Linked DNA regions of Homo sapiens: region 2 is linked to region 1. The links come from fine-mapping of genetic effects on gene expression. A gene starts in region 1. The other region holds a variant in brackets. All regions are shown on one strand. Distances are between the middles of the regions.

The links. PIP is the estimated chance that this variant, and not a neighbour inherited with it, causes the effect.
Region 2: its variant is fine-mapped to the expression of PMM2 in whole blood (INTERVAL, PIP above 0.99).

Annotation. Positions count from the first base shown.
Region 1 is chr16:8,786,981-8,803,505 of GRCh38, forward strand. PMM2 (phosphomannomutase 2) reads left to right here and starts at 10,859. Exons shown (of 8, transcript NM_000303.3): 1 at 10,859-10,968; 2 at 14,819-14,930. The coding sequence starts at 10,903. It overlaps TMEM186 (transmembrane protein 186), which reads right to left and starts at 10,659. Exons shown (of 2, transcript NM_015421.4): 1 at 10,632-10,659; 2 at 8,200-9,610. The coding sequence starts at 10,634. The coding sequence ends at 8,972. RefSeq lists silencers at 5,000-5,179, 12,498-12,547 and enhancers at 10,253-10,947, 10,586-10,635, 10,948-11,642.
Region 2 is chr16:8,831,968-8,845,499 of GRCh38, forward strand. The region is part of intron 7 of PMM2 (phosphomannomutase 2); the gene reads left to right. Among named protein-coding and RNA genes, the nearest start is that of CARHSP1, 30 kb to the right of the region's middle. RefSeq lists enhancers at 3,950-4,484, 4,485-5,017. The variant A/G (reference allele first, on the strand shown) is at 4,940.

The sequences.
Region 1 (16,525 bases):
GAGGCTGGGGTGGGAGGATTGCCTGAGCCCAAGAGATTGAGGCTGCAGTGAACTATGATTGCACCACTGCACTCCAGCCTGGGCGACAGAGTGAGACCTTGTCTCGAAACAAAAAAAAGTATACAAATAGTAAGTCTTCACTTAATGTCACAGATAGGTTCTTGGAAATGGATGGCAGGTCCTCGAAAACATCATTTCATTCAAAGTTGTCTTGTTATAACATTGTTTCTTTCAACATCTTACTATTATGATGAGGAAAAAATATTGGTTTCATTGTATGTCGTTTAACTTATAATCAGTTTCCCAAAACTTACTGATGACATTAAATGAGGATTTACTGTACCTACCTCACCCGTCTGTTGTAAAAATTATAAAGCACTGGCCGGGCATAGTGGCTCACTCCCATAATCCCAGCACTTGGGGAGGCCGAGGCGGGCAGATCACTTGAGCCAGGAGTTTGAGACCAGCCTGACCAACATGGTGAAACCCCGTCTCTACTAAAAACATATAAATTAGCCAGGTGTGGTGGCACATGCCTGTAGTCTCAGCTACTTGGGAGGCTGAGGCACGAGAATCGCTTGAACTCAGGAGGCGGAGGTTGCAGTGAGCCAAGATCGTGCCACTGCACTCCAGCCTGGGTGACAGAGCGAGACTCCGTCTCAAAAAACAAAACAAAACCAAAAAAAAATTGTTAAAGAGTCACAGTTTTCTTTTCTTTTTTTTTTTTTTTTTGAGACAAGAGTCTCACTCTGTCGCCCAGGCTGGCGTGCAGTGGTGCAATCTTGGCTCGCAGCAACCTCCACCTCCCAAGTTCAAGTGATTGTCCTGCCTCAGTCTCCCCAGTGACTGGGATTACAGGCATGCACCACCAACCCCAGCTAATTTTTTGTCATTTCTAGTAGAGACGGGATTTCGCCATGTTGGACAGGCCGGTCTCGGACTCCTGAGCTCAGGTGATCCGCCTGCCTCGGCCTCCCAAAGTGCTGGGATTACAGGCATGAACCACTGTGCCGGCCTGTTTTCTATATTCTGTCCTTCCCCTGGGGAGGCAGTGGAATGACCCAGCTCTACTGTTTTCTAGACGGGTGATCGTGGGCAAGTCACTTCAGTTCTCTGAACCTTATTCTGCCAAAAAAGGATGATTATAGTATTGCTAGCTAACATTTATTGAGTGCTTGCCTGGACTGAGCACTATTTTAAGTGCTTTTCATGTAGTAAGTCATGTAATCCTCCCCACAATCCTGGGTAGGTGGTGTTATTATCTTCACTTCACAGAGGAAGAAACCGAGGCAGAGAAAGAGGTTATACAGCTGGGAATTGGCAGGGCTGGAATTCAAGCAGGCAAGAAGTTTGGCTTCAGAAGCCATATGCTTCACCCGAACACTCTACCACCTCTCTGGGGTTCTCCAACTCAAAGTGTTGCTGGCAGATTAAATGAAATCCTATAATAATTGCCCAGCACACAGTAGGCATTTAATACATGCTGGTGTCCTTTACTGCTTCTTCTCCATGAATAGCTGAGTGTGTCTCATATATAGTTCTAAAAGGCAATATTATATTTCTGTGAGAGTTAACTTCCCACTGGTAAATATTAAATCTACTTCACACCATAGGTGCAAGCCCAGCTGAATCTGAGAGTGTATTTCAACTGTTAATCAGTAAAATGAATGTTTGTGTCCTTAGAGTTGGTATGAACATGGCCATACCTAGACGGTACTGGCCTTGCCTGATGGGACTCTAATCAGGCAAGATTTTACAATTGAATGGCGCAGGATCAAAACAAGGCCATTAAAAGTTGGACTCTGCCCGGAGTTCAAAGGGACCCTGTTGCTTTCTATTTAGGAACTCACGAGTCTTGCAGTCATAAAGCAGCAACATAAAGCAAGCTCCCAACTCTAGTTCTCCAGGCAATTCATCCAGGCTGTCCCCTGCAAGCTGCTCAGCCCACCAGATCTGCTTTGGGGAGCGCATTAAACATGGTTATGCAATGATTGGGTGGCGGATGCCATAGACATCTGGCCCTATGACAAGGTAAGTCTCATTTTTGGTAACCAGCATAGGAAGGAGGACAACAGCTACCACTGGGCTGTGCTTCCCACGTGCACACTGGGAGCATCGTCACCAGGTCCCCAGTTGATGCAGACCTCATGTGTGGATGGTGGCCATATGAAAACTGACATGTGGCTGGGCACAGCAGCTCACGCCTGTAATCCCCACCCTTTGGGAGGCCAAGGTGGGCCGATCACTTGAGGCCAGGAGTTTGAAACCATCCTGGCCAACGTGGTGAAACCCTGTCCCTACTAAAAATACAAAAATTGGCTGAGCGTGGTGGCGTGCGCCTGTAACCCCAGCTACTCAGGAGGCTGAGGCAGAGAATCACTTGAACCCAGGAGGCAGAGGTTGCAGTGAGCTGAGATTGCACCACTGCACTGTAGACTGGGTGACAGAGCGAGGATCCATCTTAAAACAAACAAACAAACAAACAAACAAACAAACAGAAAAACAGGCCAGACCCAGTGGCTCACGCCTGTAATCCCAGAACTTTGGGAGGCTGAGGCAGGTGGATCATGAGGTCAGGAGTTCAAGACCAGCCTGGACAACATGGTGAAACCCCGTCTCTACTAAAAATACAAAAATTAGCCGGCGTGGTGGTGGGTGCCTGTAACCCCAGCTCCTTGGGAGGCTAAGGCAGGAGAATGGCTTGATCCCCGGGAGGCAGAGGTTGCAGTGAGCCGAGATCACACCTGTGCACTTCAGCCTGGGCGACAGAGCAAGACTCTGTCTCGAAAAACAAAAAAATAAAACGGACATGCTCCAGACCACCCTAGGCATCTAAATTATTTACATGGCCACAGCATGGCAGGGAGACGGGGGCAAAATCCAGACAAGAAGGAAAGCCACTTGACAAGGGACAAACATGGTTAAATCACAGCTGCTTTAACTGAGTTTTCAAAGACTGCATGTTTCCTTCCATCTACTCAGCTTCTGAGTCCAGAATTGGAATTCATGGTTGAGAAACTTTCCTTTGCCTAGAAAGCTGGTGGGAGGAGAAGGGAATGGAAGAACAGACTGTTTATTACAGCGTTTTTCTTCATTTGCTAGGATGAATGATGTGCTCATTATACCCCTCTCACCCTCAATCCTCTCCCGGGGGTAGCCACTCTTCACAATTTGCAATGTATGTATGTATGTATGTATTTGAGATGGAGTCTCACACTGTAGCCCAGGCTGGAGTGAGATGTTGCGATCTCCGCTCACTGCAATCTCTGCCTCCTGGGTTCAAGCAATTCTCCTGCCTCAGCCTCCTGAGTAGCTGAGATTACAGGCGTCTGACACCACCCCCAGCTAATTTTTGTATTTTGAGTAGAGATGGGGTTTCACCATGTTGACCAGGCTGGTCTCGAACTCCTGACCTCAAGTCATCCACCTGCCTCAGCATCCCAAAGTGCTGGGATTACAGCCACTGCACCTGGCCAACATGTACTTTTTAAAAACACAAATAAGATCACACAGAACTACACTGTTCTGTGACTTGCTTTTTTTTTTTCACTACCTACCTCGTGGTCTTTTCCACAGATACAGTACAATCTCACTCTTTTTAAAGGTTGCATGTATACTACAATATTAATCTACCAACATTTACTTAACCATGTGGCCTACTAATGGAAACTTAGATTATTCCCAGTTTTTACTTTTCTTATTTATTTATTGAGACAGGGTCTCACTCTGTCACCCAGGCTAGAGTGCAGTGGCACAGTGATGGCTCACTGCAGCCTTGAACTTCCGGGCTCAAACAATTCTCCTGCCTCAGCCTCCCAAGTAGCTAGGACTACAGGCATGTGCCACCATATCCAGCTAATGTTTTATTTTTTCTTTTGTAGAGATGGGGTTTCACTATGTTGACCGGGCTGGTTTCGAACTCCTGGTCTCAAGCGATCCTTCCACCTCAGCTTCCCAAAGTGCTGGGATTACTGGCATGAGCCATCATGCCCGGACTAGTTTTTTTGCTATTGGAAATATTTCAGTCAACATCCTTATATGTACACTTCAGTATTTCTGTTAGATTATTGCTATATTCTGAATGTTTATGTCACCCCCAAATTCATATGTTGAAACCTAATTTCCAATGTGATGATATCTGGAGATGGGAACTTTGGAAGTGGATTAGGTCATGAGGGTGGATCCCTCATGAATGGGATTAGTGCCCTATAAAAAATTTCAGAGAGCTCCCTCACCTCTTTTGCCATGGGAGACCACAGCAGGAATAAGCCTGTCTACCAACCAGGAAACAGGCCCTCCTAGACAATGAACCCGCTGACGCATTAATCTTGGATTTCCCAGCCTCCAGAACTGTAAAAATTAATGTTGCTTGAGCCATCCAGCCTACGGTATTTTTGTTACAGCAGCCCAAGTGAACTAAGACAATCATGTTATAATTGTTGTTAAAGGGGGCAACTGCCAATATATCTACCACCCAAATCTAAAGACAACTCCCATTTTCTGAGAAGCTGCTTTGCCATCTATTGTATGGCTTTGGGTGATTCTCAAAACTTGTAGTACTGTGGAATAACCTGGGAAGCATAAACAAACAGATGCCCAGGTTCTACCAGATTCAACAAGGGTTGGGCACACTTAATGTTTTTTTTGTTTTTTGAGACAGGATCCCGCTCTGTCACCCAGGCTGCAGTGCAGTGGCGCAGTCTCAGCTCACTGCAACCTCTGCCCCTCAGGCTCAAGTGATCTTCTCACCTCAGCCTCCCCAGTAGCTGGGAGTACAGGCATGTACCCTACACCCAGCTAATTTTTCACATTTTTAGTAGAGATGGGGTTTCACCATGTTGCCCAGGCTGGTCTTGAACTTCTGGTCTCAAGCGATCTGCCCACCTTGGCCTCCCAAAGAGTTGGGATTACAGGTGTGAGCCACTGCACCAGTCCTTTTATTGCTTCTGTTGTTGACTTTGGTTTTTTGGGGGCAGCTCTCAGGTACTACCCTACTGGTGCATGACAGAAGCCCTAACACATTTCCTGTTATCTGGTGGACATCTGTGATTTTAGCTTAGGGATACAGCGTTAGAATAATGCATTTGCTCTGTGTGCCCTCTGCTGGTACTGCATGAGCAGACCACACATGGAATGCCTGCATGGGTGAGAATCTGGTCTCACCTCCCAGGGCAAGCCCCTTGCAGACTTAACAGAGTGGTGATTCTCCAAAGGCAGCGATGGTCAACCATGTTAGAATCACCCAGGGAACCGTGAAAATAAAAATGCCTGGTCATGGGCTTCGACAATGGGGTTTTTAAAACACTCTCCAGGAGATTCTACACATAAAGCCAGTGTTAAGAACCTATTCTTTGGGCAGAAAATTGGCCCAGGAACACAAAGTCCACAGAACCATGTGTCACTCTGGTGTCTTCTGTTCTAGTAATGTATTTCAGAAATTCCCAGCCTGCCTGAATCTCAGAATTGGCTTCAAGCTGGTCAAAAAAACAGATCCTGGAAATCCACCCCAGACATAATCAGAATATCCTGGGGTGAGGCTCACTCAGGTCATTACTTACAACCCAACAGAGAGAATTTTTGGTTTTAATGAGGTTAAGGTCAAATCATTATGACTTCTTAAGACATTTTTTAGCCACAGGCTTTATCTCTTCATGGGGAAGGGAGTCACAGTCACTGAAGGAACTGACAGGCAGGTGAAGGCAAGGTACAGAAGGAATGAACAGCCACGTGTAACTGCTATGCACATGTCTCTTCTATATAATTGAATCTTCACTACACTTCTTGAGCATAAATAGTAAAACCCTGTTATACCGAGAGGATACTGAAGGGGAGGCGGTTAGTTCTCTTTGCAGGCATCTAGGGAGAAAGCCTTCCAGGCAGAGGGAACTGTCAATGCAAAGGCCTTAAGGCTGGAATATTCTCGATTACTGGAGAACAGCAAGGCAGTCGTGACCTGGGGGAATGATCTCCACAGAGGTGCGGATGAGGGAGGGAAGGGGAGGGTGGATTAGGCCATCAGCCTTCACAGCAGTGACGTGATTCTGTTTTTAAGCATCACTTTGACAGCTGCAAAAACGGACTCAAGTAAAGCAAGGATGGAAGCACAGGACAGAAGCATCGAAGTGAAGGGCCAGGCGTGGTGGCTCATACCTGTAATCCCAGCACTTTGGGAGGCCGAGGCAGGTGGATCCCTCGAGTTCAGGAGTTCGAGACCAGTCTGGCCAACATGGCAAAACCACATCTCTACTAAAAGCAGAAAAATTAGCTGGGCATGGTGGTGGGTGCCTGTAATCCCAGCTACTCAGGAGGCTGAGGCAGGAGAATCGCTTGAACCTGAGAGGCGGAGTCTGCAGTGAGCCAAGATCACACCACTGCAACCCAGTCTGGGTGACAGAGTAAGACTCCATCTCAAATTTAAAAAAAAGGAAAAGTAACCACTGTTGACAAGAATGTAGAGAAACAGGAACCCTTGTCTGTTGCTGGTGAGAATGTAAAATGGTACAGCTGCTGTGGAAAAGTGGCAGGTCCTCAAAAATAAACAGAATTACCACAGGATCCAGTTAATCCACTTCTCAGTACGTACCCAAAACAACTGAAAGCAGGGACTCAAACAGATACTCGTATACCAGTGTTCACAGCAATAGCCAAATGTTCATTCATCAGTAGTCAAAAGGTGACGACAACTCAAATGTCCATCAACAGATGGACAAACAAAATGTGGCACACACAGAGAATACACACTGCACCCGTAAATATATTTAACCATAAAAAAGAAATAGCACTGACATATGCTACAACACGGATGCACCTTGACAACACTACACCAAGTCAAAGAAGCCAGATACAGGCCAGCCGCACTGGCTCACGCCTATAATCCCAGCACTGTGGGAGGCCGAGGTGGGTGATCACTTGAGGTCAGAGATTCCAGGTCAGCCTGGACAACATGGTGAAACCCCATCTCTACTAAAAATACAAAAATTAGCCAGGCTTGGCGTCAGGCACCTATAATCCCAGCTACTTGGGAGGCTGAGGCAGAATCATTTGAGCTGGTGAGGCGGAAGTTGCAGTGAGTGGACATCGCGCCACTGCTCTCTGGCCTGGGAAACAGAGCGAGACTTCAACTCAAAAAAAAAAAAAAAAAAGAGCCAGATACAAAGGGTCACATATTGTATGATTCCATTTATATGAAATATCCAGAACAGGTGAATCCAGAGGGACAGAAAGCAGGTTAGTGGTTGCCAAGGGCTGGAAAAAGAAGGAAATTATTGCTCAATGGGTATATTAGTTCTGTTTGGGATAATGAAAATGTTCTGGAAATAGATGGTGGTGACGGTTGTACAACATTTTTTGTTTTGTTTGTTTTTGAGATAGTCTGGCTGTCTCCCAGGCTGGAGTGCATTGGTGCAATCTCGGCTCACTGCAACCTCTGCCTCCCGGGTTCAAGCTTCTCAAGTAGCTGGGAATACAAGTGCCCACCACCATGCCCAGCTAATTTTTGTATTTTCAGTAGAGACAGGGTTTTGCCATGTTGGCCAGGCTGGTCTTGAACTCCTGACTTCAAGTGATCCACACGCCTCAGCCTCCCAAAGTGCTGGGATTACAGGCATGAGACAGTGTGCCCAGCCTGTACAACATTGTTAATATACTTAATGTCCCTGAATTGCACACTTAAAAATGATTAAAAGGATAAATTTGTTAGGTGTATCTTGGTATGGTTAAGAAAAATGGAAGGCTACACAATAAAAAAAAATATTTTTTTTTTGAGACGGAGTCTCACTCTGTCGCCCAGGCTGGAGTGCAGTGGCGTGATCTCGGCTCACTGCAAACTCCGCCTCCCAGGTTCACACCATTGTCCTGCCTCAGCCTCCCGAGTAGCTGGGACTACAGGCACCTGCCACCACGCCCAGCTAATTTTTTTGTATTTTTTAGTGGAGACACGGTTTCACCCTGTTAGCGAGGATGGCCTCGATCTCCTGACCTCGTGATCCGCCACCTTGACCTCCCAACGTGCTGGGATTACAGGTGTGAGCCACCGCCCCCAGCGATAAAACATTCTTATTGACTTTCGAGTGGCAAAATAATAAAGATCATGCCTTCCTTCCTCTTTACTGTGTTACAAATTGTATAATGAACATATATTATTAATTATGTGGGGCAATGTATATAACTGGCTTAAGTTTATAAAATAACGTACCAGCATCCGGTGCATTTGGCTTTATTACACTGCAGGGCCATCCAAAGCAAGAGCCTCTAGACCTCTGGGTGGTGAACAAATCTCAACTGGGGTTTCGTGCCTACCTGGACGACATCTGCTCGTCAATGTGTAGTTAACATCCTGACAGACCCTTCTGCCGCTGGATATGTGAGGGGCACAGCACAGGGCTCTGGAAGTCCCTGCTGACTGCTCGAAGCCTTTCTCCCTGCTAAAACCTCTGACCAAATGCTTAATAATATCTGCTGTAGGCTGTTGAGTCTGCCACACGTTTGACATTTATTGTTTATTCCCACACCCATCCCATGAAACAAGCAGGACTTTCCATTTTACAGATGTGAAAACCAAGATTCAAAGAGACTCAATAACCTGCTCCAGGACAAATGACAGAACTGAGACTTCTGACTCCAAATCTTACGCTCCCCCGCCACACCTCTTTGCCTTTCTCTTTCACACCAATGGACTCTATGGGTGACCTTGGCATAGGTTCTTCTAAGAACTGGCTCTTAACAAAAACTTCTGGCCATTATCTGACTGAATGTCACAAACAAGTGCTGTAAGAACTTGCTTAGAGCCTTTTTCCTAAACCTGTACACCAGCTCTTGCCTTGTGAATTTATTCACCACAAAACACATGTTCCCAGGGGCCCAGGCAAAGTCTCCAAGTACCCAGTCCCCTTTCTTCAGCCTTGCCCACACCCTCAGCCTTCCTGTTAATCCAGGCGACCCAGGGTTACCCAGAGGTCCAGGTCCCAGTTGTTCACTTGAGCATCTGATGTACCCCAAACACCTGTGTGAAACGCTCTCTGTCCAGGATGCGTCCATAGCGCAGGGTGACGTAGAAGGTCTGTTTCCCACTGTACCGCTGGATACGCACAAACATCTCCTGAGGCCGGTCCTTGGTTTCTGTCAGGGGAATCACATCTGCCATGGGACAGTATGTGTCCTGCCGCCAGCCCCAGAAGTTCAGATGGGCCACCCGCAGCATGGTGCCAGACTCATTCAGATACAGGATACCAACCAGTCTCCGTAAGAAATAGCTCATCCAGCACAGCATGGTCAGGGCAAAGCCCGATATCCCACTCATGAGGCACACGGTGTTGAGAGTGAGGAGGCCCTGGGAGTACAAGTAATAGCCTGGTGGCAAAGCTACCACTGTCAGGGCAGTCTGTGCCAACTTCAGTCGTGACAGGAACCCGAAGGTTCTGATGGCATCAAAACGGTAAAACATCCAGAATTTCTCAGTCTCTGCGTTTGGTAGTTTCTCCTTCGAGATGGGTGAACTGCTGCCCACCCACCTCTTAGGATCCTCCTGCCCACTGCAGCACCACAGCCCATGGAGAGGCCTTTCCCACACAGCTTTTCCCCGAAACCTACGCACAGCTCGGAGAAGGGCAGCCTGAAAGGGAGACAGTAGACCATTTCTCTCATGGAACTCAACCACATTAATCACACGGTGAACATCTGCAAAGCACCATACTCTAAGGCTTCTGCCAATCCTGCAAGGTAACCGTTATTGCCAGACGAGGGAAGGGTAAAGCCAGATGCTATCTCATGTGGGCATCACAACAGCTATCTAAGATAGTTATCACTATTTCCACTTTACCACTAGGGAAACTAAGCCCAGAGAGGGTAAGATATTTACCAAAGATCACACAGTCAGTGAGTGCAGCAGAGTCCTCCTTCCACCAGGCAATTCCAAATAAATACAGGAAAGGAGGTGCGGCCGTCATTAATTCAAAACATATCCAGGGAGGACAAACTCTGGGCTGGACAATGTATCCACAAGGGGGTGTGAACATTTCCCCAAGCAGGAAACTAAATAATCAGTGTCTTAGTGGGGAACTCGAGCAACAAATCTGTGAGATATTTATTCCAATAAACTTTCTAATTCTCTGTTTGATTCATATGCTATCTTGGGTGCTGGAGGGAACTGCTGCTTTCTCTTAGCCTAGTCTGGGGAAGGGGAAACAGCGGAGAAGGAGAAGGAGCGAGGCAGGGAGGCCCCAACACGTAGCACAAGGGTATTACTAGGTGGGTAGTGAAGCAGTAAAAGCTCTTATTCCAATTCTGGCTCCAACAGTAATTTGTGAGCAAATTACTCCACACCCCTGAGATTCGGTTTCTTCGCCTTTCAAAATGGGGACTCAGAACACAGTGAACCAGAGGATGGTTTCAGAGTCCTCAACTTAGTACCTAATGCACTGTGAGAGCTCGGCGAGTTTTAGCTACTACTACTGTGCGCATGTGACCCAAGGAGGGCAAGAGAAAGCCCGGGAAAAGCGAACTGTAACACACGCCAGAGCTTCCTCCCACGGATCCTCGGAGTCCGAAACCCGAGCGTCGGGCCTGCCCGCCCCAGCCCTGACCCCGACCCCAAAGAGCATCACCCCCTCAAGGCTCGCCACCCGCCTCCTTACCATGGCCCCACCACCTGCTGCCGGAAGTAAATCCCACCGGCCCCCGGAACCCCTAAGAGCGCATGCTCGAATGTACAAGGCGGGCGTGATCTGCGTTGCACCCTGGGAGTTGCGGTCCAGGAATCGTGGCTGCCGCTACTCCCAGGCGTTATGGGAACGGAGTCCCCTCCTCTTCCCGACGTGCCCTGCGACTCAGCGGCCGAACCCGGAAGTTCCGGGCCGAGTTCCTCGTGCCAACGTGTCTTGTAAGGTGCGGCTAGAAACTGGGGACATGGCAGCGCCTGGCCCAGCGCTCTGCCTCTTCGACGTGGATGGGACCCTCACCGCCCCGCGGCAGGTAAGTGGCGGCCGGCGGGCTGCTGGCAGCCGACGCGGAGCCCGTGCTGTTCCCAGTTGGGGCTATCGACCACCCAGGGTAGGCGCCAAGGGGTGGCTAAGGACCGCCTACGTCCTCACGGCGCTGAACCCTATTCTGGGTGCACTGGAGGAATGAGAGGGAGGCCCTAACCAGCTCTTGAAGAGCTCTGGTGCTTGGAAAGATGAGACGGGGCTGAAGAACTCTTAAGAGCAGGAAACTTGTGCTAGGTTGGAAAATGTAATCTGGACTCACCGCTAGTGCTCGGGACTGATAGACCAGGATTTCAACCCAAGATCAGGCCCCCTTATCAGCTATGTGTCGGCCCCAATCCTGTAACCAATGGGCTGTGCCGTGAGTCATGATATTAAAAACAGGTTTCCAGGTCAAACCGACCTAGTGGAGTCTCATCTTCACCTCTTGACATCTGTGTGACCTTCAGCGAGTCATTAACCTCTCTGAGCCTCAACATCTACAGCTTTAAATGGGGATGTTACCTGTTCCATATGGTGTCTGTGAGGATCAAATGAGATTGTGTAAGTTCTTGAAAGTATGTTGGACACAACACACTAGGCCTCAGTAAATAGTAGCCACCTCCACCACACCCATCTCCAGCCCCTGCAATGGACTAGGGAGATGGAGGAGCCCTAGGTTATTACAGGCTGCCCGCTGAGAGCCTCTTTGGGCCCTTGGAAACTTGCTTTCCACTTTCAGATTTTGCTGCTACAGGCACAGATAAGTTTCAGTTACGATCAGCCTTGAGGTGAGGCTCTCCTGGCCCCTTTTCAGAAATTGGCCACTGAACACTGGCCATTTCAACTTGAGACTGGACCCCAATGGTCTCACTATCCTCAGCTTCTACCCTCACCCCTCATAGTTTTCGCTTGGTGGTAACAATGGTGTGCTCCAGAAGTCCAGGTCAAATGCGTGTGACCTTAGACGTATCATTTTGCCCTTCTCAGCCACAGGTTTGATTTACCTAGTGATGACGCTCAACTCCCAAGTTCTTCAAAGGCTTTTTCTGATTCTGAAATTCAGTGATCACACACTTGGGTTTGTTAAAAGCCCATAGTGGTCTAAAACTCCGGTCCCCAATTCATTTTTTGTAAAGGGCCATATAGCAAATACTTCTCTGTCTTTGCTGACTATGTGGTCTATAGTAACCACTCAACTTTAGTGCAAAACCAGCCATAAACCCTATATAAATAAGAGTGGCTGTGTACCAATAAAATTTTATTTATTTATTACAAAAACAAACAGCTGCCCAATGTGGTCTGTGGGCCATAGTGGTCTAGGGTTTACATTGCCACCCTTTTTCATATCACTGAACCCTCTCAACCTTCCTCCATCTTTCTTCCCAGGTAGGATAGTTGTTATTACCGTTTTAAACATAAGGAAACACACTCAGTGAAGAACTAACCTCCTCAGTTTCACACAGCCAACCTGGTACAAGTCTCTGGGCCTCAGGATATTGGTTCCTGTCAAGTTTGCCATTTCCTATCTGTGCTAAGGTGGAAGCTGTTCTAGTCACTGGGTATGCCATTCAGGAAAGTGCTTCTGATTTTCTGATTTTCACAGTTCTGACTCTTTTTTTTTTTTTAAGACAGAGTCTCACTCTGTCACCAGACTGGAGTGTAGTGGCCCAATCTCAGTTCACTGCAACCTCCACCTCCCAGGTTCAAGCAATTCTCCTGCCTCAGGCAACCAAGTAGCTGGTGCTACAGGCAGGCACCACCACGCCTGGCTAATTTTTGTATTTTTAGTAGAGATGGGGTTTCACTGTGTTGGCCAGGATGGTCTCTATCTCTGGACCTCGTGATCCACCCGCCTCGGCCTCCCAAAGTGCTGGGATTACAGGCGTGAGCCACCGTGTTCTGACTTTTAAAGGCCACTCCTCCAATTCTAGATTCTGTCTAATAGGTCCAGATTCCACTGTGAGAGTAGAAAAGATTGCACTCTATTACAAACCCTTCTGTACAATTTTAATCACATTCATGTATTACTCTAAAAAAGTTTTTTAAAGAAAAATCATTGAACTCCAAGTGTTTATATACTGAGGTTGAATTAAATGGTTTTTTGTATTTTCTAAATTTCTAGTAAAAAGATATTCAGCCGGGCACGGTAGTTCATGCCTATAATCCCAGCACTTGGGGAGGCTGAGGCGGGTGGATCACTTGAGGTCAGGAGTTCGAGACCAGCCTTGCCAACATGGTGAAACCCAGTCTCTACTAAAAATACAAAAAGATTAGCCGAGCATGATGGCGGGCGCCTGTAATCCTGGCTACCTGGGAGGCTGAGACAGGAGAATCGCTTGAACCCAGGAAGTGGAGGTTGCAATGAGCCGAGACCACACCATTGCACTCCAGCCTGGGTGACAGAGCACGACTTCGTGTCAAAAAAAAAAAAAAAAAGACATTCAGTGTAAATGTACAACTGAGATTGCTCAAAGTGCTGAGTTATAAGACTTGTAAAAATACATTGTGATGTGTCTTAATGTAGGGCTATTTTTTCATCTTAGTTTATAACTTTTTTAAAATTATCACACAGTTTGGAATTTACCATAAGATTATACCACTAAGACCACTCTTTCTAGATAGGAGCTTTGCTTTTAGAAGAGACTAAAAAATCTAGTTATCTTACTCTTTTACATTTTTGTTTTGTTTTGGGTGATTGCAATAAAATCAATTCTAAGCTTCTCCTTTTTTTTTTTTTTTTGTTTTGTTTTGTTTTGTTTTGAGACGAAGTCTCGCTCTGTGACCCAGGCTGGAGTGCAGTGGCACGATCTTGGCTCACTGCAACCTCTGACTCCCGGGTTCAAGTGATTCTCCTGCCTCAGCCTCCCGAGTAGCTGGGACTACAGGCGCCCACCAGCGCGCCCGCCTAATTTTTGTATTTTTAATAGAGACAGGGTTTCGCCACGTTGGCCAGGCTGATCTCGAACTCTGACCTCAGGTGATCCACCCGCCTCGGCCTCCTAAAGTGCCGGGATTACAGGCATGAGCCTCCATGTCTGGCCCTAAGCTTCCTCTTTAATTTCATTATGTTGTTTTATTTTAAAATCAACAACTTAAATCCATAAATGGAGTATAGTGTAGCATTTAAAAGGAATGATGAGCTAGATCTGTGTTGGCATGAAAAGATCACCACAGCATAGTGCTGAAAAACCAAAGTCCCTGCACAGGACATGATTCCATTTATGTTTCAAAAATAAGACCTATTTGTATATGTGCCCATAGATGGGTATATAAATGCATAGAAAAATAGCTGGGACAGTGCACAACAGCTACTAACATATTACCTGTGTTTAAAATTTGGTAAAAATAACACTTAAGTTTATTCTGGTAAAGATGCCCCCCCAGTTACAACTAAAATATTTGAACTATGTACAGAGCTGGTAACTTAATTGGCATGTATGAAAATAAGGCTTATAGACCTGGCTTATACCTGTAATCTCAGCACTTTGGGAGGCCAAGGCTGGTGGATCTCCTGAACCCAGGAGTTCCAGACTGGCCTGGGCAACATGGCAAAACTTAGTCTCTACAAAATATAAAAAAATTAGCCAGGTGTGCTGGCACATAACTATGGTCCCAGCTACTCAGGAGGCAGAGATAGGAGGATCACCGGAGTCCAGGGAGGTCGAGGCTGCGATGAGCTATGACCATGCCACTGCACTCCAGCTTGGGTGACAAGTGAGACCCTATCTCAAAAAAAAATTTTTTCTTTAATTTTTAAATAAGAAAATAAGACTTATGTACTTGTGTTACCCTTAGAGTTTTGGTCTCCTGATTATTGTGTGGCTTATGACTGTTGTATTTTCTTTCTTGAAATTTAGAAAATTACCAAAGAAATGGATGACTTCCTACAAAAATTGAGGCAGAAGATCAAAATCGGAGTGGTAGGCGGATCGGACTTTGAGAAAGTGCAGGAGCAACTGGGAAATGATGGTAAATGATGGGTTGCTAATTACATCTGGTAAAAGATTAACTTCTTATGAGGATATTGTTGCCAAGTATCATAGGCTGCCCTAAAACCTTGTCCCCATATGGCGGGCTTTCTGCTTCCTTTTTTGGGAAACATTTTCTTGGCCTTTGCTTTTCCTCTGCTTTTAATCCAGTACATTTCTGGAGTTACTGATGGAGAACTGGGTACTCAGATGTGTGAGTAGATTCACCTAGAAAGGTCAGTGGCTGTATCTGCACATGATAATCTCTCTGCCTGGAATACTTCTTGCTTGTACCCGTTGACAGCCCTTCTAGCCCCAGTCAGACCGGTCTTCATATTGTCCCTCTGACAGCCCCCCTCACCTCCCCATCACTGAAACAGAATCTCCAGCACAGGACCCCGAAAAACCAGAGAGGCTTATTGACCCCTTCACTGGAGAGTCTGACTTGATAGGTCTGTGGAGCCTGGGAATCCTATTTCAGTGAGTACCTCTGAGAGATTCTAGTGTACAACCTTGCTAATGTAGCATTCTGTAATTATTGTAAACTATCCGATTATATGTTTTTGAAGAGCAGGAGTATGGGTTATTCATCTCCATAGCCACAGGGCCTCCTGGCCTGTAAGAAATTGTAAGTGGATGCCAGGCGCGGTGGCTCACGCTTATAATCCCAGCACTTGGGGAGGCCGAGGCGGATGGATCACCTGAGGTCAGGAGTTTGAGACCAGCCTGGCCGACATGATCAAACCCCATTTCTACTAAAACTACAAAAAATGAGCTGGGCGTGATGACGGGCACCTGTAATCCCAGCTACTCAGGAGGCCGAGGCAGGAGAATTGCTTGAACCCAGGAGGCAGAGGTTGCAATGAGCCGAGATCACACCATTGCACTCCAGCCTGGGCAATAAGAACGAAACTCCGTCTTGGAAAAAAAAAAAAATTATAAGTGGAGAGGTGGATGAATTGATTGTTCTTTTAACCCCTGTTGTCCCCAGAGTCCTCACATCTTGGAACCAGCTCCTCTAGAGCAAGATTTCTCACCTTCGCACTATTGATATTTTGGACCAGTTAGTTCTCCATTATGAAGGCTGTCCTGTGCATTGTAGGGTCTTTAGCAACATCCCAGGCCTCTACCCACTAGATGCCCACAGCATACACACACGCACACATACGGCTATGACTACCAGAAATGTCTCCAGACATTGCCAAATGACCTCTGTGTAAAATTACCCCCGTTTGAGAACTACTGTTCTCAAAGATGTAATATGTTACAGTCCAAATCTGTATGGACTGTATTTATAGGATCACCATTACTAGAAGAGTAATCTCTGCAATCTCTTTAAAACTCTCTCTTCCACTTCCACTTCATTTTCCTGGTAGATCTCCTACTTAGAAATGCTATAAACCGCATACTGGGGATCACGAAGCCCTGAAAATCCTGTTACCTGCTCATGATCGCCCTTTCTGCATCTAGTTGTGTATTTAACCACTTGCTCAGGGAAGTTTTGTGTAGTGTAGCATAGTGTCTGCACCTGTCAGAGACATGCAACAATAGAATCAAAACATTCACAGGCCAAAAGACAGTTGAAGGCCCACCTGT
Region 2 (13,532 bases), 43 kb after region 1:
GGGAGGTGGCTGAGTTCCCCAACTAGAATCAAGTAACCTTTAGTGCATATGCAAATCCAGCATTTGAAATTTCCGGTTCTCTAGCCTTATTATTCTAGAGGGCAGCCAGCTTTCCTTTCATTTCATTTGGGGTCCGCTTCACTTGCTTTGCAGCTACTCTGGTATGCAAGCTCGACACAGCCCCAAGAAGGCTGCACCCCAGGAAGGAGCCCACCATGCTCTGAGAGTCACAAAGAAAGAAGCAGACCCTTGGCGGGAGAGAAAGGAAGGCCTGAGGCAGGTTGTGTTTGTGATGCAGATGCTCCTGCGAGCCGTGCGGCTCTCTGAAAGCGGGTGGAGCTGAGAAGCAACCCAGAGAGGCTCCTGCAGCCAGGGTCGGGAGGATTTCACCTTCCTGGATGGGAATTGATTCTCCAGACCTAGCTTTATTAAGTGTCAGCGAGTTACATGCACACAGATCACTCAGATTCCACAGACACCTCCCCACCAGCCCCCAGCAGGACCACGGGAGGAGACTCGTGCCGTTAGGCCTCTGTCCCTGCATGTGACATCTGCAGGGAAGGGCAGGCCTAGCAACTGTCAGGGGACTAGCATAAACCCTTTTTGCTTCAGGGGTCTCTTCCCAGGTAATGGCCTCTGTCCTCTTTGCACCCTGGCCGGCTGCAGGAGCCTCCTAACTGCTCCCTTCAATTGCGTCCTCACCCCGCACCCGTTCTCCAGAAAGATCCTGTTGTAAAGTAATCTGATCATGGCCCGGGCTTGCAGGCTTCAGGCGGCTACCCGTGAAATCCCAGGTGCTTACCACAATCTGTGAGGCCCGCTGTGGCCCGGCCCCAGCCCCTGCCCATCCTCCCTCTTCAGCGTCTTCTCTGATGGCCACATGGCCTGTGCCCTCACGTCCCTCAGATGCCAGGGTTCCCTCACCCTCCAGGCCTGGCAGCCCTTCCCTCCCTTTGCTCAACAAGGCGCCCAAGAGCTGTCTGTTGATGACTGGTCTCCCCAGGGCAGCTGTGATGTGGTTTTGGTTTGCGCCGTATCCCCAGCTGCTAAAGCAATGCCTGGCGGGTAGAGGGTTTCGTGCGCGTCCGTGTGAAGAGACCACCAAACGGGCTTTGTGTGAGCAACATGGCTGTTTTTTTCACCTGGGTGCAGGCGGGCTGAGTCCCAAAAGAGAGTCAGCAAAGGGTGGTGGATTATCATTAGTTCTTATGGGTTTTGGGATAGGCGGTGAAGTTAAGAGCAATGTTTTGCGGGCAGGAGTGGATCTCACAAAGTACATTCTCAAGAGTGGGGAGAATTACAAAGAACCTTCTTAAGGGTGGGGGAGATTACAAAGTACATTGATCAGTTTGGGTGGGGCAGAAGCAAATCACAATGGTGGGATGTCATCAGTTAAGGCTATTTTTACTTTTGCGGATCTTCAGTTACTTCAGGCCATCTGGATGTATACGTGCAAGTCACAGGGGATGCGATGGCTTGGCTTGGGCTCAGAGGCCTGACATTCCTGCCTTCTTATATTAATAAGAAAAATAAAATAGTGTTGAAGTGTTGGGGCGGTGAAAATTTTTAGGGGGTGGTATGGAGAGAGAATGGACGATGTTTCTCAGGGCTGCTTCAAGCGGGATTAGGGGCGGCGTGGGAACCTAGAGTGGGAGAGATTAAGCTGAAGGGAGGTCTTGTGGTAAGGGGTGATATTGTGGGGATGTTAGAAGAAACATCTGTCGTATAGAATGATTGGTGATGGCCTGGATACGGTTTTGGATGAATTCAGAAACTAAATGGAATAAGAGAAGGAGAAAAACAGGTATAAAAGGTCTAAGAATTGGGAGGACCTATGACATCTGATTAGAGAGTGCCTAAGGAGATTCAGCATAGTCCTGCCAGCAAAGATTATTTATTTACCTCAAGAGTTTAGAGTGGCAGTTTGGGGATAGCACCAGGAGATATCAGCTGTGATGGCTTGGAGAAACAGTGTAAACCGGCAGTGTAAACAAGAGCAGGGCATGTATGAGTAGTTGAGAATGGCGAATAGGAATATGACTAGACAGGAGATAGTAGGGATGACAAGTTTTGGGGGGCACAGTCTAAGTTGGTCTGGTGTCTGGAATGAGACTGGGGCCTAATAAAAAGGAGCGTCTATACAGGAGCTTACATGGGCTGTACCTTGTAGCATTCTGAGGACAGGCCTGAATTCTGAGAAGGGAAAGTGGTAAAAGTATTGTCCAGTCCTTTTTAAGTTGGAGGCTGAGCTTGGTGAGGTGTGTTTTTAAAAGACCTTTAGTCCATTCTACCTTTCCTGAAGATTGAGGACTGTAAGGGATATGAAGGTTCCACTGAATACTAAGAGCCTGAGAAACTGCTTGGGTGATTTGACTAGTAAAGGCTGGTCCGTTATCAGACTGTATAGAGGTGGGAAGGCTAAACTGAGGAATTATGTCTGACAGAAGGGAAGAAATGACTGCGGTGGCCTTCTCAGACCCTGTAGGAAAGGCCTCTACTTATCTAGTGAAAGTGTCTACTTAGAGTAAGAGGTATTTTAGTTACCTGACTCGGGGCATGTTGAGTGAAGCTAATTTGCCAGTCCTGGGTGGGGGCAAATCTTCAAGCTTGATGTGTAGGGAAGGGAGGGGGCCTGAATAATCCCTGAGGAGTAGTAGAATAGCAGATGGAACACTGAGAAGTTATTTCCTTGAGGATAGATTTCCACGATGGAAAGGAAATGAGACGTTCTAAGAGGCGGGCTAGTGGCTTGTACTATAGCATAGCCTGCCTTTGCTGCTATGTGGCGATTAGGCCTGGTGGAACCGCCATCAATAAATCAAGCGTGATCAGGGTGAGGAACAGGAAAGAAGGAAATATGGGGAAATGGGGTGAATATCAGGTGGATCAGAGAGATACAGTCATGGGGGTCAGGTGTGGTATCAGGAATAATGTGGGAGGCCAGATTGAGGTCCGGGCCAGGAACAATGGTAATTGTGGGACTTAACAAAGAGTGAGTACAGCTGAAGGAGCCGGGGAGCAGAAAGTATATGCATCAGGTATGAGGAAGAAAGTAGATTTTGGAAGTTACGAGAAATGTAGAGAGTGAGTTGAGCATAGTTTGTGATTTTTACGGCCTCTAAAAGTATTAAAGCAGCGGCAGCCGCTGCACGCAGACATGAGGGCTAGGCTAAAACAGTAAGGTCAAGTTGTTTGGACAGAAAGGCTACAGGGTGTGGTCCTGGCTGTTGTGTAAGAATTCTGACCGCACTAACCATGCCTAGGAAGGAAGGGAGTTGTTGTTTTGTAAGGGATTGAGGTTTGGGAGATTAATCAGACACGATCAACAGGGAGAGCACGTGTGTTTTTATGAGAATTATGCCGAGATAGGTAACAGATGGGGATGAAATTTGGGCTTGACTGAAGTAGTGGGGGCTGTCTGTGAAGCCTTGTGGCCGTACAGCCCAGGTAATTTGCTGAGCCTGATGGGTGTCAGGGTCATCTAACTGAAAGCAAAGAGACGCTGGGATGAAGGGTGCAAAGGAATAGTAAAGAAAGCATGTTTGAGATCCAGAACAGAATAATGGGTAGTAGATGGAGGTATTGAGGACAGGAGAGTATATGGGTTTGGCACCACGGGGTGGATAGGCAAAACAATTTGGTTGATAACGCGCAGATTCTGAAGTAACCTGTAAGCCTTGTCTGGTTTTAGGACAGGTAAAATGGGGGAATTGTAAGGAGAGTTTATAGGTTTTAAAAGGCCATGCTGTAGCAGGCGAGTGATAACAGGCTTTAATCCTTTTAAAGCGTGCCATGGGATGGGACATTGAGTGGGGTAAGGGTGATTAGGTTTTAATGAGATGGTAAGGGGTGCATGATTGGTTGCCAAGGAGGGAGTAGAGGTATCTTATACTTGTGGGTTAAGGTTGGGGGATACAAGAGGAGGACACAAAGGAGGCTTTGGATTGGGAAGAAGGGCGGCAATGAGATGTAGCTGTAGTTCAGGAATACTCAGGGAAGCAGATAATTTAAAGTGTCTCGGCCTAATAAGGGAACTGGGCAGGTGGGGATAACTGAAAAGGAGTGCTTAAAAGAGTAATGTCTAAATTGGCACCAGAGTTGGGGAGTTTTAAGAGGTTTAGAAGCCTGGCCGTCAATACCCACAACAGTTACGGAGGCAAGGGAAACAGGCCCTTGAAAAGAAGGTAATGTGGAGTGGGTAGCCTCCGTATTGATTAAGAAGGGGATGGACTTACCCTCCACTGTGAGAGTTACCCGATGCTCGGCGTCCGTGATGGTTTATGGGGCTTCCGAGGGGATTGGGCAGTGTCAGTCTTCAGCTGCTAAGCCGAGATCTGGGAAGGAGTCAGAGAGCCTTGGGCCAGAGTTCCAGGGGCTCTGGGGAGTGGCTGCCAGGTGAGTTGAACAGTCTGATTTTCATGGGGTCCCGCACAGATGGGACGCGGCTTAGGAGGAATCCCGGGCTGTGGGCATTCCTTGGCCCAGTGGCCAGATTTCCAGCACGTGTAGCAAGCTCCTGGGGGAGGAGGTTCTGGAGGAACGCCTGGCTGCTGCGGTTCAGGCGTTTGGAAGTTCTTGTGTGCTGGAGATGTGGCTGGGGTTTGTCTCACAGTGGAGGCAAGGAATTGCCACTTTTTTCTATTACTGTCCACCTTGAAGGTGAGGTTAGTTAAGTCCTGTTATGGGGTTTGAGGGCCAGATTCTAATTTTTGGAGTTTTATTTAATGTCGGGAGCAGATTGGGTAATAAAATGTATATTGAGAATAAGACGGCCTTTTGACCTTTTAGGGTCTAGGGCTGTAAAGCGTGTCAGGGTTGCTGCCAAACGAGCCATGAACTGGGCTGGATTTTTATATTTGATGAAAAAGAACCTAAACGCTATCTGATTTGGGATAAAGAAAAAGGAGCATTAACTTTGACTATGCCTTTAGCTCCAGCC[A/G]CCTTTTCAAGAGTAAATTGCTGGGCAGGTGGGGGAGGGCCAGTCACAGAATGAACTGTAAGCTGGTCCAGGTGTGAGGAGGGGAGGTGATAAAAGGATTATAGGGTGGAGGAGCGGAGGCTGAGGAAGAATTGGAACCTAGCTCAGCCTGGCGAGGAGGAGAGGTCAGATGGGTCTGTAGAAAAGGAATATTAGAAAGACTCAGCGACGCTTGGGGTTGCGACTGAGGGGACAGGTGGGAGGGAAAGAAGGAAGATTTGGGACGAGTTGCACTGGGCACAGAGACTAGGAAGGGACTGATGTGTAAAAGAATGCCTGGACATCAGGCACCTCAGACCGTTTGCCCATTTTACGACAAGAATTATTTAGATCTTGTAGGATGGAAAAACTGAAAGTGCCGTTTTCTGGCTATTTGGAACTACTGTCGAGTTTGTATTGGGGTCAAGTGGAATTGCAGAAGAAAATAAGGCATTTATTTAGGTTTTAGGTCAGGTGTGAGTTGAAGAGGTTTTAAGTTCTTAAGAACACAGGCTAAGGGAGAAGAAAGGAATGGAAGGTGGAAGCTTGCCCATAGTGAAGGAGGTAAGCCCAGAGAAAAGAGTAGAGACACGGAGAAGGGGTGGGGGGTTCTTGCCCTCCAGAAAAGCAGAGAAGGGGTTGGGGCACGGAAATAAGGGATTGGGGCACAGAGATATAAGAGATTGGGGCGCAGAAATAAGGGATCGGGGCGCAGAGATACATGGGGTTGGGGTACTTACCCCTCCCCTAGAAAAGCAGAGAAGGGGTAGAGACACGGAGAGAAGGGGTTGGTGTACTTGCCTCTCCGCCAGAAAAGTGGGACTTGCCGCTAAGGGTGAAGGACCAAGGCAGGCGTCCCTGCATGGTCTGACACCTTTGAAACGTGGGTAAATAATCAGGCGTCCCTGCAGTGATTAAACACCAAGGGAAGGCTGCCTTCCCAGTCTCTGACCGGCGCCGGAGTTTTGAGTCCACAGATAAAATGTGTCTCCTTTGTCTCTACCAGAAAATGAAAGGAATTGAAATTAAGGGAGAGATTGAAGTGTTTCATGCGCGTCCGTGTGAAGAGACCACCAAACAGGCTTTGTGTGAGCAACATGGCTGTTTATTTCACCTGGGTGCAGGCGGGCTGAGTCCGAAAAGAGAGTCAGCAAAGGGTGGTGGATTATCATTAGTTCTTATGGGTTTTGGGATAGGCGGTGAAGTTAAGAGCAATGTTTTGTGGGCAGGAGTGGATCTCACAAAGTACATTCTCAAGAGTGGGGAGAATTACAAAGAACCTTCTTAAGGGTGGGGGAGATTACAAAGTACATTGATCAGTTCGGGTGGGGCAGAAACAAATCACAATGGTGGAATGTCATCAGCTAAGGCTATTTTTACTTCTTTTGTGGATCTTCATTTACTTCAGGCCATCTGGATGTATACGTGCAAGTCATAGGGGATGCGATGGCTTGGCTTGGGCTCAGAGGCCTGACATTCCTGCCTTCTTATGTTAATAAGAAAAATAAAATAGTGTTGAAGTATTGGGGCGGTGAAAATTTTTGGGGGGTGGTATGGAGACAGAATGGGCGATGTTTCTCAGGGCTGCTTCAAGCGGGATTAGGGGCGGCGTGGGAACCTAGAGTGGGAGAGATTAAGCTGAAGGGAGGTCTTGTGGTAAGGGGTGATATTGTGGGGATGTTAGAAGAAACATTTGTTGTATAGAATGATTGGTGATGGTCTGGATACAGTTTTGGATGAATTGAGAAACTAAACAGAAGATCCAAGGTCCAAATAAAAGAAGGAGAAAAATGGGTATTAAAGGACTAAGAATTGGGAGGACCTAGGACATCCAATTAGAGAGTGCGTAAGGGGGTTCAGCGTAATTACTTGCTTGGTTGGCAAGTTTTTGGGCTCTATGCTTGAGTTTTTTTATGTTGTCATACATCAGGCCAGATTGATTTAGGTAAAAACAACACTCTTCATTTAAGAATATGCAGAGTCCTCTTTTTTCAACAGTGAGTAAGCAAGGCCTCGGTGGTTTTGGAGGACAACTGCAGCTAAAGAGTCAACTTGGGCCTGGAGGACTGATAAAGTTTGTGACATGTCTGTGATGCTAGCAGAGAAGTCATTAGACAGGCTACGGAAGGTCATGACAGAGGTTGAAATGCCTGCTATTCCAGTACCGAGAGCAATAGTGGAGGCAGAAAGTCCTAAACCGACCATCAAGGGAATTAGTGGAATGACTCTTCTTTGTTGTGTCGGTGTCATGAGGGGAACAGGGAGCTCTTCGTTCCTATTTGCAAATTGAATTTTGGGAGTAAGGAAGACTAGTGTGCATGTGCCTGTCCAATTAGCAGGTAGACACATGTTAGGTAAAGGATCCACAGAGGAAGAAGAGACCTTGTGCGAGGCAAAACTGGAGATGTAAAGTAAAAAGATGAGGAGTGCTGCAAGGGGTGTCTTGTACCTAGAGTCCTAGGGATCCAGCTAGGGCGGCAGCTGTCAGAGGTTGTAATGGGGACTGATGGGGTAACTGCATAGAGGGGGAGGTTCGATTTTCATGGTGTATGAGAAAACGTTGAGTATCTACAAGCAACCTTTCACTATTATTTTCGGGGCTGGGTAAAAGTAAACAAGAGGAGGGCCTGGGAGGAAGAGTCTGATGAGCAAGGGGAAAGTAGCCAAGGATGGAGTGAAATACAGGGCAAGTGTCTTCCTAAGCAATAATTACTGCTAATGTTTTTAAGTTTGTCAGTATTGATAGCGGGCTTGTCTGTAATATGGAGCTGGAAGGCTCCCATTGTTTGAGTGATGTGTGTAGTTGGACTTTGGAGATGAAGAGTAAAGGAACATCGAGAAGGTGAAAGATTACCTAGGGGAATTCCAGTGGGTCTTTGCCGAGAGATACATATAGGAGCGGCCACAGGCATAGTAGTTTGTGTTGTGAGAGGTCCGAATATGGGGGGAGAAAGGAGAAAGGAGAAAGGTTTTTTAAATAAGTGTGAAGGAGGGCGGCAGCTTGCTGATGTGAAATGTCTGGGGAAGTCTTGCTGGACCTGTCTAGAAAGTAAATGAGTTCTTCAGGAGGGTAAAGGTGAGGGCTGTTACAGGAAGTTCGGAGGTGTAGGGAGATGGGAGATGTTGCCCAGTCTGTCTGTAAGGTGGGGACAGCTGTGTAGGCACTGGAAGAAAGGGAAATGCAAAGCCAGCAGTTGTTCACTAAGGAGGGATTAGAAGCGGCTAGGAGAGAATGGGTAAGGTTGATAGTGTGGTGGAGATAGCTGGGGAGAGGTAGAGGGTGGCATAAGAATGGGAATGAGAATAAGAGTGAGTATAAAAGTAAAGAATAGAACTTCATCAGGGTGGAAATATTGGAGGGTGCCTTGCCAGCAAAGATCATCTATCCACTCTAAGAGGGAGTTAAGAGTGGCAGTTTGGGGATAGCACCAAGAGATATCAGCTGTGATGGCTTGAAGAAACAGTGTAAACCGGCCGTGTAAACAAGAGTAGGGCATTTATAAGTAGTTGAGAATGGAGAATAGGAGTATGACCAGACAGAAGATAGTAGGGATGACTAGTTTTTTGGGGCTCGGCCTAAGTGGTGGGGGTGACTTCGTAAAGCCCTGTTGCAAAAAGTAGGGTAAGGACGAAAAACCTAATAGAATGAAGGGATGTATTAGGCTCATAAGGGTTATGACTGTTCTTCGAAATACGACTGAGTTTAAGGGAAGTAGGGGAGAGTACTTGCAACTTCCAGGAGGAAGAGGAGGGATTAGGCTGGCTGTCCGATGGACACAGCTTTATTCTGGAACGGTGAGCCTAGTGGGGAGGATCCTGCAGGCGGACAGCAGTCGGGGTACTATAGATGACTAAGTAGGGTCCGGTCCATCGAGGTTGTAGAGTTTGAGGAGTCAGATTAACAAGAACTGATCGTCCAGCTAGGGTGTCTTCATATGGCTGGGGATCTGGAGTAGGCAAGAGAAGCTTAGCAGCCTGGCGAATTTCCTGTCTAGCCTGCTGGAGGACTGGAAGACAGTCGCCTAGAGGGCTGGTGTCTGGGATGAGGTTGGGGCCAAGCAAGAAAGTGCGTCCATATAAAAGTTCAAATGGACTGTACCTACCCTGTAGCATCTCGAGAACAGGCTCTAATTCTGAGAAGAGCAAGAAGTAAAAGTACTGTCCAATCCTTTTTAAGTTGGAGGCTGAGCTTGGTGATGTGTACCTTTAAAAGACCATTAGTCCGTTCTACCTTTCCTGAAGATTGAGGACTGTAAGGGATATGAAGGTTCCACTGAATACTAAGAGCCTGAGAAACTGCTTGGGTGATTTGACTAGTAAAGGCTGGTCCGTTATCAGACTGTATAGAGGTGGGAAGGCTAAACTGAGGAATTATGTCTGACAGAAGGGAAGAAATGACTGCGGTGGCCTTCTCAGACCCTGTAGGAAAGGCCTCTACTTATCTAGTGAAAGTGTCTACTTAGACTAAGAGGTATTTTAGTTATCTGACTCGGGGCATGTTGAGTGAAGCTAATTTGCCAGTCCTGGGTGGGGGCAAATCTTCAAGCTTGATGTGTAGGGAAGGGAAGGGGCCTGAATAATCCCTGAGGAGTAGTAGAATAGCAGATGGAACACTGAGAAGTTATTTCCTTGAGGATAGATTTCCACGATGGAAAGGAAATGAGAGGTTCTAAGAGGCGGGCTAGTGGCTTGTACTATAGCATAGCCTGCCTTTGCTGCTATGTGGCGATTAGGCCTGGTGGAACCGCCATCAATAAATCAAGCGTGATCAGGGTGAGGAACAGGAAAGAAGGAAATATGGGGAAATGGGGTGAATGTCAGGTGGATCAGAGAAACACAGTCATGGGGGTCAGGTGTGGTATCAGGAATAATGTGGGAGGCCAGATTGAGGTCCGGGCCAGGAACAATGGTAATTGTGGGACTTAACAAAGAGTGAGTACAGCTGAAGGAGCCGGGGAGCAGAAAGTATATGCATCAGGTATGAGGAAGAAAATGGATTTTGGAAGTTATGAGAAATGTAGAGAGTGAGTTGAGCATAGTTTGTGATTTTTACGGCCTCTAAAAGTATTAAAGCAGCGGCAGCCGCTGCACGCAGACATGAGGGCTAGGCTAAAACAGTAAGGTCAAGTTGTTTGGACAGAAAGGCTACAGGGTGTGGTCCTGGCTGTTGTGTAAGAATTCTGACCGCACTAACCATGCCTAGGAAGGAAGGGAGTTGTTGTTTTGGAAGGGATTGAGGTTTGGGAGATTAATCAGACAAGATCAACAGGCAGAGCACGTGTGTTTTTATGAGAATTATGCCGAGATAGGTAACAGATGAGGATGAAATTTGAGCTTTGGAGGGGGATACCTGATATCCTTTGGAGAGTAAATGCTGAAGGAGCAGAAGTGTGTCTTGTTGAGAAGATTCAAAGGAGGGGCTACAAAGAAGAAGGTCATCAATATATTAAATAAGGTGAGAAGCGGAGGGGTGGAAAGAAAGTAGATCATGAGAAAGAGCTTGGCTGAAGTAATGAGGGCTGTCCCTGAAACCTTGTGGCAGCACAGCCCAGGTAAGCTGCTGGGACTGATGGGTGTCAGGGTCAGTCCAGGTGAAAGCAAAGAGAGGCTGGGACAAGGGGTGCAGGGGAACGCTGAAAGAAGCATCTTTAAGATCAAGTGTGGAATAGTGAGTTGTGGAGGAAGGTATTGAGGATGAAAGAGTGTATGGGTTGGGCACCACAGGGTGGATAGGCAAAACAATTTGGTTGATAAGGCGCAGATCCTGAACTAATCTGTAAGACTTGTCCGGTTTCTGGACAGGTAAAATGGGGGGATTATAAGAAGAGTTTATAGGTTTTAGAAGCCTATGCTGTAGCAGGCCAGTGATAACAGGCTTTAATCCTTTTAAAGCGTGCTGTGGGATGGGATATTGGCGTTGAGCGGGGTAAGGGTGATTAGGTTTTAATGGGATGGTAATGGGCATGTGATCAGTTGTCAGGGAAGGAGTAGAAATGTCCCATATTTGTGGGTTAAGGTGGGGGGATATGAGAGGAAGACGCAAAGGAGGCTTTGGGTTGGGGAGAAGGGCGGCAATGAGATGCGGCTGTAGTCCAGGAATAGTCAGGGAAGCAGATAATTTGCTTAAAATATCTCGGCCTAATAAGGGAACTGGGCAGGTGGGGATAACTAAAAATGAGTGCTTCAAAGAGTAATGTCTAAGTTGGCACCAGAGTTGGGGAGTTTTAAGAGGTTTAGAAGCCTGGCCGTCCATACCCACAACAGTTATGGAGGCAAGGGAAACAGGCCCTTGAAAAGAAGGCAACATGGAGTGGGTAGTCCCCGTTTCGATTAAACAGTGGGTGGACTTACCCTCCACTGTGAGAGTTACCCAAAGCTTGGCGTCCGTGATGGTCTGGGGGCTTCCAAGGCGATTGGGCAGCGTCAATCTTCAGCCGCTAAGCCAAGGAGTCAGTCAGAGAGCCTTGGGCCAGAGTTCTAGGGGCTCTGGGAGTGGCTGCCAGGTGAGTTGAACAGTCCGATTTCCAGTGGGGTCCCGCACAGATGGGACACGGCTTAGGAGGAATCCTGGGCTGCAGGCATTCCTTGGCCCTGGTAGTCAGATTTCTGGCACGTGTAGCAAGCTCCTGGGGGAGGAGGTTCTGGAGGAACGCCTGGCCGCTGCGGTTCAGGCATTTGGAAGTTCTTGTGTGCTGGAGATGTGGCTGGGGTTTGTCTCACAGTGGAGGCAAGGAATTGCAACTTTTTTCTATTATTGTACACCTTGAAGGTGAGGTTAATTAAGTCCTGTTGTGGAGTTTGAGGGCCAGATTCTAATTTTTGGAGTTTTATTTAATGTCGGGAGCAGATTGGGTAATAAAATGTATATTGAGAATAAGACGGCCTTTTGACCTTTTAGGGTCTAGGGGCTGAGGAAGAATTGGAACCTAGCTCGGCCTGGCGAGGAGGGGAGAGGTCAGATGGGTCTGTAGAAAAGGAAGATTAGAAAGACTCAGCAACGCTTGGGGTTGGGACTGAGGGGACAGGCGGGAGGGAAAGAAGGAAGATTTGGGACGAGTTGCACTGGGCACAGAGACTAGGAAGGGACTGATGTGTAAAAGAATGCCTGGACATCAGGCACCTCAGACTGTTTGCCCATTTTACGACAAGAATTATTTAGATCTTGCAGGATGGAAAAATTGAAAGTGCCGTTTTCTGGCTATTTGGAACTACTGTCGAGTTTGTATTGGGGTCAAGCGGCATTGCAGAAGAAAATAAGGCATTTATTTAGGTTTTAGGTCAGGTATGAGTTGAAGAGGTTTTAAGTTCTTGAGAACACAGGCTAAGGGAGAAGAAGGAGGAATGTAGGAAGGTTGCCCATAGTGAAGGAGGCAAGCCCAGAGAAAAGAGAGCGTAGAGACATGGAGGGAAGGGGTTTGGGGGTTCTTACCCTCCAGAAAAGCGGGAAAGGGGTTGGGGCATGGAAATAAGGGATTGGGGCACAGAGATACGAGTTTGGGGTACTTGCCTCTCCCCCAGAAAAGCGGGACTTGCCGCTAAGGGTGAAGGAGAAGGGGTTGGGGGGTTCTTGCCCCTGCCCCAGAAAATCAGAGAAGGGGTAGAGACACGGAAAGAAGGGGTTGGGGTCCTTGCCCCTTCCTCAGAAAAGCGGGACTTGCCGCTAAGGGTTATGGACCAAGGCAGGTGTCCCTGCGTGGTCTGACACCTCTGAAACGTGGGTGAATGATCAGAGGCGTCCTTGCAATGATTAAACACCAAGGGAAGGCTGCCTTCCCAGTCCGTGACCGGCGCCGGTTTTTTGGGTCCACAGATAAAACGTCTCCTTTGTCTCTACCAGAAAATGAAAGGAATTGAAATTAAGAGAAGGGAGAGATTGAAGTGTGGCGCCTAGATTGAAAGGAGAAAGACGGTGAGGGATAGGGAGGTTGGAGAAGAGAGTAAAAAGAGGCTGCTTATTGGATTTGAAATTGGTGAGATGTTTCTTGGGCTGGTGGGTCTGAGGACCTGAGGTCGTAGGTGGATCTTTCTCATGGAGCAAAGAGCAGGAGGATAGGGGATTGATCTCCCAAGGGAGGTCTCCCGATCTGAGTCACGGCACCAAATTTCATGCGCGTCCATGTGAAGAGACCACCAAACAGGCTTTGTGTGAGCAACATGGCTGTTTATTTCACCTGGGTGCAGGCGGGCTGAGTCCGAAAAGAGAGTCGGCAAAGGGTGGTGGATTATCATTAGTTCTTATGGGTTTTGGGATAGGCGGTGAAGTTAAGAGCAATGTTTTGCGGGCAGGGGTGGATCTCACAAAGTACATCCTCAAGAGTGGGGAGAATTTCAAAGAACCTTCTTAAGGGTGGGGGAGATTACAAAGTACATTGATCAGTTCGGGTGGGGCAGAAACAAATCACAATGGTGGAATGTCATCAGTTAAGGCTATTTTTACTTCTTTTGTGGATCTTTAGTTACTTCAGGCCATCTGGATGTACACGTGTAAGTCATAGGGGATGCGATGGCTTGGCTTGGGCTCAGAGGCCTGACAGTAGGTGTTCTAGAAAGGTGTGTTGTGTTAATGTGTGAATAC